Homo sapiens: one gene and its partner. The protein of the gene in region 1 purifies or fractionates together with the protein of each later gene. This does not show direct contact. Each region holds a gene or a part of one and is shown on either strand. Other genes may lie near its edges.

The links. Proteins that work in one complex are often made in the same cells at the same time.
Region 2: the proteins of SLC46A1 (region 1) and PRPS2 purify together in Homo sapiens (affinity purification with mass spectrometry; one large-scale study listed by BioGRID and IntAct). This does not show direct contact.

What each region holds. Positions count from the first base shown.
Region 1 is NC_000017.11:28,403,413-28,407,338, reverse strand, and holds the start of SLC46A1 (proton-coupled folate transporter), read left to right. Parts: upstream 1-1,126; 5' UTR 1,127-1,224; coding exon 1,225-1,452; intron 1,453-1,870; coding exon 1,871-2,723; intron 2,724-3,289; exon of another isoform or gene 3,290-3,926.
Region 2 is NC_000023.11:12,797,912-12,801,411, reverse strand, and holds part of PRPS2 (ribose-phosphate pyrophosphokinase 2), read right to left. Parts: intron 2,206-3,500; coding exon 2,022-2,205; coding exon of another isoform or gene 2,013-2,021; intron 1-2,012. UniProt on the Homo sapiens protein: Catalyzes the synthesis of phosphoribosylpyrophosphate (PRPP) that is essential for nucleotide synthesis.

The sequences.
Region 1 (3,926 bases):
GGCCTAATTCCTATAATGGGAGCCACCCAGGAGCATAGGTTCACACCCAAGGACCTCCCAGGCCCTCCCCCATCTTCTCTAAGGGAACTGCAGAGCCAGGCCCTGCCTGACCCCAGAAACAAGACTAGTTTCCCAGGAAAAGATCCTAGGGCAGGAGTGGAGCAAGTGACAGCTTGTTTTTTATTTTATTTTTATTTTATATTTTTTGAGACAGGGTCTTGCTCTGTCACCCAGGCTGGAGTGCAGTGGTGCGATCTCAGCCCACTGCAACCTCTGCCTCCTGGGCTCAATTGATCCTCCCACCTCAGCCACCCGAGTACCTGGGACTACAGGTATCTGCTACTACGCCTGGCTAATTTTTGTGTATTTTTTGTAGAGACAGGGTTTTACCATGTTGCCCAGATTGGTCTCGAACTCCTGGGTTCAAGCGATCCATGCGCCTCAGCCTCCAAAAGTGCTGGGATTACAGGTGTGAGCCACCACTCCCAGACGTGACAGCCTGTTAATAGCAATAATAGCACTTTGAATATACCAGACACTGCTTTTCCACAACTTTTTGAGACATGTTTTGTTAGCAACTCCATTTTACAGATGAAAAAACAGAGGCTCAGGGTGGTAAGTGGCATGCCGAAGGTAGTGGCAGAGCCTAGGTGCTCCAACCCAGGCAGCTGGGCTCAGCCCACTCCGATCCTCTCCAGCTGCCTCTCTGTTACAGCGCAGAACATCAGCAGCATCAGGAGTCATGTGCTCTTCCAGCTCTGCCTTGAGTACCCGATGACCTCGTTTCCTCAGCGGTAGATAGCGATGGTTAATATTGGCTAGCCTGTAGAGTTATCGGGAGACCAACGCACAAAAAGGGTTTAATACCGTGCCCAGCACATAGTAAGTGGTCAATACATGTTAATTGTTGATATTCTTGTTATCTGTGGTGTGTCTGGGCCGGGAGGGAGGGCTGCAGGGCGGTGTCTACGCACACTTTACAGGTGAGGTCATCCCGCGGGCTGGGGGTGCCGGGCCCCTCGCTGGCCCACGCCCAGCCAGGTGCACCCGCGGCGAGAGTCCGGTGGCCTCAGGTCACAGGCCCCTCCCCGCCGGACATTTAAGGAGGGACGCCGGGCGCAGGCGCAGACAGCGCAAGCCCCACGCCACGCGTCGCTGGTCCCAGGCAGCGAGTCGCTCGCGCGCCCCGCCGCCCGCCTGGCGACAGCTCCGCCGCGCACGCACATGGAGGGGAGCGCGAGCCCCCCGGAAAAGCCCCGCGCCCGCCCTGCGGCTGCCGTGCTGTGCCGGGGCCCGGTAGAGCCGCTGGTCTTCCTGGCCAACTTTGCCTTGGTCCTGCAGGGCCCGCTCACCACGCAGTATCTGTGGCACCGCTTCAGCGCCGACCTCGGCTACAATGGCACCCGCCAAAGGGGGGGCTGCAGCAACCGCAGCGCGGACCCCACCATGCAGGTAGCGGGGCGGCGAGGAGCCTGGCAGGTGGAGGGCCCTGGTCTGGAGCGTGGGGGCAGCGGAGGGGCGGGGCCTGCGTAATGGTAGTGGCGGGTAACTGGAGGGAGGGTGCATTTTGGATGGTGGGCGGGACCAGAGCAAAGGGGCCTGACCGAGAACCTCAGCGGGTGGGATGCGAAAAGCTGAGCTAAAGTCTGGCCTTGCAGGTTAACAAAAGGGGGGGGAAAGGAAAGGGAATGGGGCCTTGGTCCATGTCCTTCCCCCTCTCCACTGGCAGATTTTGAAAGCTGTGCTAAGATTCTCTGAGGTTTAGGGCTCCAAAGGAAGTCCTCATCCCTGTAGCTCCCGGGATGGCGAGGATTTGGGGATTGTGGAACCCAGAGTGAGGAACCGCACCCTGGTCATTGTGCCCCTACAGGAAGTGGAGACCCTTACCTCCCACTGGACCCTCTACATGAACGTGGGCGGCTTCCTGGTGGGGCTCTTCTCGTCCACCCTGCTGGGAGCTTGGAGCGACAGTGTGGGCCGCCGCCCGCTGCTAGTGCTGGCCTCGCTGGGCCTGCTGCTCCAGGCCCTAGTGTCCGTTTTTGTGGTGCAGCTGCAGCTCCACGTCGGCTACTTCGTGCTGGGTCGCATCCTTTGTGCCCTCCTCGGCGACTTCGGTGGCCTTCTGGCTGCTAGCTTTGCGTCCGTGGCAGATGTCAGCTCCAGTCGCAGCCGCACCTTCCGGATGGCCCTGCTGGAAGCCAGCATCGGGGTGGCTGGGATGCTGGCAAGCCTCCTCGGGGGCCACTGGCTCCGGGCCCAGGGTTATGCCAACCCCTTCTGGCTGGCCTTGGCCTTGCTGATAGCCATGACTCTCTATGCAGCTTTCTGCTTTGGTGAGACCTTAAAGGAGCCAAAGTCCACCCGGCTCTTCACGTTCCGTCACCACCGATCCATTGTCCAGCTCTATGTGGCTCCCGCCCCAGAGAAGTCCAGGAAACATTTAGCCCTCTACTCACTGGCCATCTTCGTGGTGATCACTGTGCACTTTGGGGCCCAGGACATCTTAACCCTTTATGAACTAAGCACACCCCTCTGCTGGGACTCCAAACTAATCGGCTATGGTTCTGCAGCTCAGCATCTCCCCTACCTCACCAGCCTGCTGGCCCTGAAGCTCCTGCAGTACTGCCTGGCCGATGCCTGGGTAGCTGAGATCGGCCTGGCCTTCAACATCCTGGGGATGGTGGTCTTTGCCTTTGCCACTATCACGCCTCTCATGTTCACAGGTAAAGTGTGTGGGCTCAGGGACAGCTTGTCCCAGAGGCACTGGGTAAGAACTGGGGGCCGGCCACTCACTGCCCCCAGATGTGGTTCATTCCTGTGTCTTTGGAAACATAGTTATGCCCCCAGCCTGCACTGGAGAACAGACAACTAAGAAATCCCTCAAAAATGCCATCTTTGATACATGGAAAATATAGACCTTCAGTAGCTAAAGTAATTAACCCACTGTTATCAACCATTAATATTGTTAGTAATATAGAGCAAAAGACAAAAGTGTGGCTCATACACTAATTGCTTTACCCCTTGGCCTCCCACCGCCTATTCATATGTTCTTAAACAAAGTCCATGCCATTAATGCCTGGTACTCACTTCTCTGATAAGAATCACAGGACCTACCTCAAATACCCTTAGTCAGCTTCTTTGGGTTTTTTAAAAACCAGTCTTCTCGGACCACAGATATGAAATTCCTGCTTCAGTTCCTCTTCTCCTCTTTCTCCTTCTCCTTTCCCTCCTCACTTCCTCCCCTTCTTTTTTTGATGGGAGAGGGTCAACAGGCCAGTAAATGAGGAAGTTAACTTTTTAAAATTTTTATTTGATTGATGTATTTAGAGACAGGGTCTCGCTTTGTTACCCAGGCTAGAGTGCAGTGGCACGATCATGGCTCACTGCAGCCTCATCCCCCGGGCCCAGATGATCCTCCCACCTTGGCCTCTCTAGTAGCTGGGACCACTGGTGCACATTACCACACCTTGCTAATTTTTGTATTTTTTATAGAGATGGGGTCCTCACCATTTTGCCCAGTCCAGGTCTCTAACTCCTGAGCTCAAGGATCCGCCTGCCTCAGCCTCCCAAAGTGTTGGGATTACAGGCATGAGCCACCGTGCCCGGCTTTAGTTAACTTTTTTTAAAGGGACAGATTTATTTTGATAGAGCCCTAAAATGTGCTGTGTATAGTCAACAATACAATAATCACAGATTTCTTAACTCAACTGCTTGTCTGACAATTAAGCAGAAGGGAACCTTTCCCTCCTGCTGATGGCCCTGGGGGATGCAGAGATGATAAAGATGCTGTCATTGCTCTGGGTCGGGGGGAGGTCTCAACAGAGTGGGATTTGAGGGGCCTGACACTGCTAGGGTCCCTGGATGCCTCATCGTATACCTTCTTTGGAGGATCCACTGTCCTGTAGGAGTTTGCAGTTTTGCTGAGG
Region 2 (3,500 bases), on another chromosome or scaffold:
GAAATTTAACAGCTAAAAATACAGTTTAAATCAAGTTTAAAATAAAAGGAGCTGTCTGTATAAATAGCTAGTGGGAGGATACAGCTTCACAGCAGTGTATGTGACCTAAGGTTTTGGCTGCCCAAGGTCAAGTTTAGATCATAAACACACACACACATACACACACACACACACACACACACACACACACGTGCGCACGCAATCTATCAATGGTCTAATACAGGGGTTGGCAAACTGTAGCCTATAGGCCAAATCCAGCTAGCCACCAGCCACCAGCCACTTGTTTTGGTACTGCTTGTGAGCTAATAATGGCTTTCACATGTTTAAATGGTTGAAAAAAATTCAAAATAGTATTTCAAGGCATGTGAAAATAATATGAAATTCACATTTCAGTGTCCATAAATAAAGTTTTATTGGAACACAGCCATACCCATTCATTTACATATTGTCTATTGCTCTTTTTGAAGTACAACCAGAGTTGAATAGTTGCAACACAGACCATATAGCCATTTACAGATAAAGTATGTGGACCCTTCTAATTAGATTTTAGGTGAGAAATTAACTGACTGGCCATCTTCAAGACAGGGAATGGAAACCATGTCTTGAGGAGACTGGGATTAAAATTCAGGGGGACTTTGGTATATGAATTCAAATTTATAAAGGGTTTTTTTCAAATATGAGGGGATCTTGTGTGCTGCTTCAGAAATCTGTGTTGTTTCAGAAATGAATTATGGAGATAAAAAGCAGCATATTGGGGAAAACCTTTCTTGCACTGAGTTACCAAATCACAGAACAGCAGTGTGTCTTGAAAACTGGCAGGATTCTCGCTGAGCCTGGCTGAACATCTATCTATCCATAAGATACGGAACACACAACAGCTGGGAGTTGACCACTGTAGTAGGTCAAACAATATCCCCCCAAAACTCATGTCCACCCACAACTTCAGCATGTGACCTCATTTTGGAAATAGGGTCTTTGCAAATATAACCAAGGTAAAGATTAAGTTGAGTTCATTCTGGATTAGGTTAGGCCTGAAATCCAATGACAGTGTCCTTATAAGAAACAGAGAAGAGACACAGGGAAGAGGCCAGGTGAAGAGAGAGGCAGGGACCAGAGTGATGTAGCCACAGCCAAGGAATGCAAGGAGACACCAGAAGTTGGAAGAAGCGAGGAAGCAGCCTCCCTTACAGCCTTCAGAGGGAGCGTGCCCCTGCCCATTCCTTGATTTCACACTTCTGGGCCTCCGAAACTGTGAGGGAAAAATTTCTGCTCTTTTAAGCCACGCGGTTTATGTAATTTCTTATGACAGCTTAGAAAACTAATACAATCTCCTTCAAAGTTCTTCTCAACCTCCGATTTCTCTGTTGCTCTGAAAGGCAAAGACCAACCACATTTTCTTCAATTTTTTTCTAAAGACTCACAGAGCCTCCTCTGATGCTAATGTTGTGAAAAACATAATTCAATGATACTATTTCTGTTCTTTTTAAAAGGTTAAAAAGAGATCATGGGTTTTTTTTTTAATTAAACTTTTTATTTCGGGGGAATTGTAGATAGACATGCAGTTGTATGAAACAACGCAGAGATCCTGTGAACCTTTTACCTAGTTCCCTGTGGTAACGTCTTGTGAAACTATAACACAGTATCACAGCCAGGACCCTGAAATTGATACAATCCAGTGATCTGATTCAGATGTGCTCTAGTTTGACTTGTACTCTTGTGCATGTATGTGTGTGTATTTAGTTCTATCCACCACCACAAAGACATACAATAATTTCATTATAACAAGGACAATAATGGTATTTTAATACCTGCAAAAATATGCATTACCTGTTTCTTTGAATATTAATGTCAGGGTAGGTTCAAAGCCAAATCTTCAACAAACAAAATAAGAAAGCATATTTACTTGATCATCAAAGGAAAAAGCCAACATTTTCCAGATAATTCTAATCAAGGGGATAAATGAGGAAAAACAACATTGACAGTGGCCCACAGCAGGTTTCTAGGGCACACACCTCTCCTACCTTGTCCTTTTTATCTTGTCGGGCGTATGGGAAACACGGGATCACGGCAGTTACTCTGGATGATGACGCAATCTTGCAGGCATTGATCATGATGAGGAGTTCCATCAGGTTGTCGTTAATTTCCCCGCAGCCGCTCTGGATGATGTAGACATCTTCCCCTCTCACGCTTTCACCAATCTCCACGCTAGGAAAAGAAAACTGCCATCGGTTAATATCGAAGCATATTTGCATCTTGGGCGTCCCTGAGACCACCCCTAGGTTTGATGATCACCAGGATGACTTATAGGACTCAGCCTAATAGTTGCACTCATGGCTGTAATTTATTGCAGAGAAAGGACACAGAGCAAACTCAGCAAAGGGAAAAAGGTGCATGGGGTGAAGTTGGGGGAAACAGGGTGCAAGCTTCCAAGACTCCTCCCTGAGGGGAGTCAGAGGTAGAGCTTAATGCCCCAGTAGTGAGCTGTGACAACACGTGTGAAGGGCTCTCTACCAGGGAAGCTGCTTAGAGACTCAAGTCCCAGGGTTTGTATTGTGGGCTGGTCATATAAGCACCCTCTGCCTAGCACGTACCAAAATGTCAGACTCACAGGCATTCAGCATGAACCACATTGTTTATCAATTGTTTAAGAGTTTATGCAGTGAGCCATCCTTACTGGGAAATGGTGGGTACCCTTGCAAAATGTAAGCTCCCAGAGGCCAGCCAAGGGCCAACCTTGCGAACAGGCCTAAGTCTCAGGCCTGCTAATGTTAACTCTTTTCTGCAAAATACTACATTTAGTTTTAGTTTTTTATTAAAGTTATACAGTCATATTGCTTAAAAAATTCAAACCATTCTGTAAGACGTATAACAGAGAAAGTGCCCAGAGGCCACCAATTTCAACTCTTGATAGGGTTTTTGGATACTTTCCTTCAAGTCTAGCTACTATGTGTGTATTGCTGTGTCTTGATTTTTCATTTTAGGCAAAGTGTATTGACTTCTCACTATGGAAGATGAGGACTGAACTCCATTTCCATTCAGTTCCATCACTTGCAATGTAAACTTCCCATCTCGCCATCATCCCAATATAGATCAATATTCACATTAAAGATTGACTGTACGTTTTTAACTGCGCAAATGCTGCTCAGAGCTCTGCCATGCAATTAACTTAAACGAATGCTTGTATTTTCTTTTTATGCACATCTTTTCTTTTTATTTTCCCTGGAGGTCATTCTCTTACCTTTTTATCTGCTAAGTTTTCTGAATCCTGAATCCAGATTCCACCCTAAACCCTTCACTAACAATCAAAATCTCCCAAGATCAGAGGCCTCAAGTCCCATCTGCATTTCATCGTCTTGCAGGCATCCCTCCCAGGGGTGGCAGGCCTGGGTTATCTCTCTGCCTGTGCACAGCTGCCATCCGGGGATTCCCTGCCCCCTCTCCTGCACTCCATTTGCCATTTTCTGTATCCTCTTTCTTGGTATACTTCCTTGTTTTGCTGG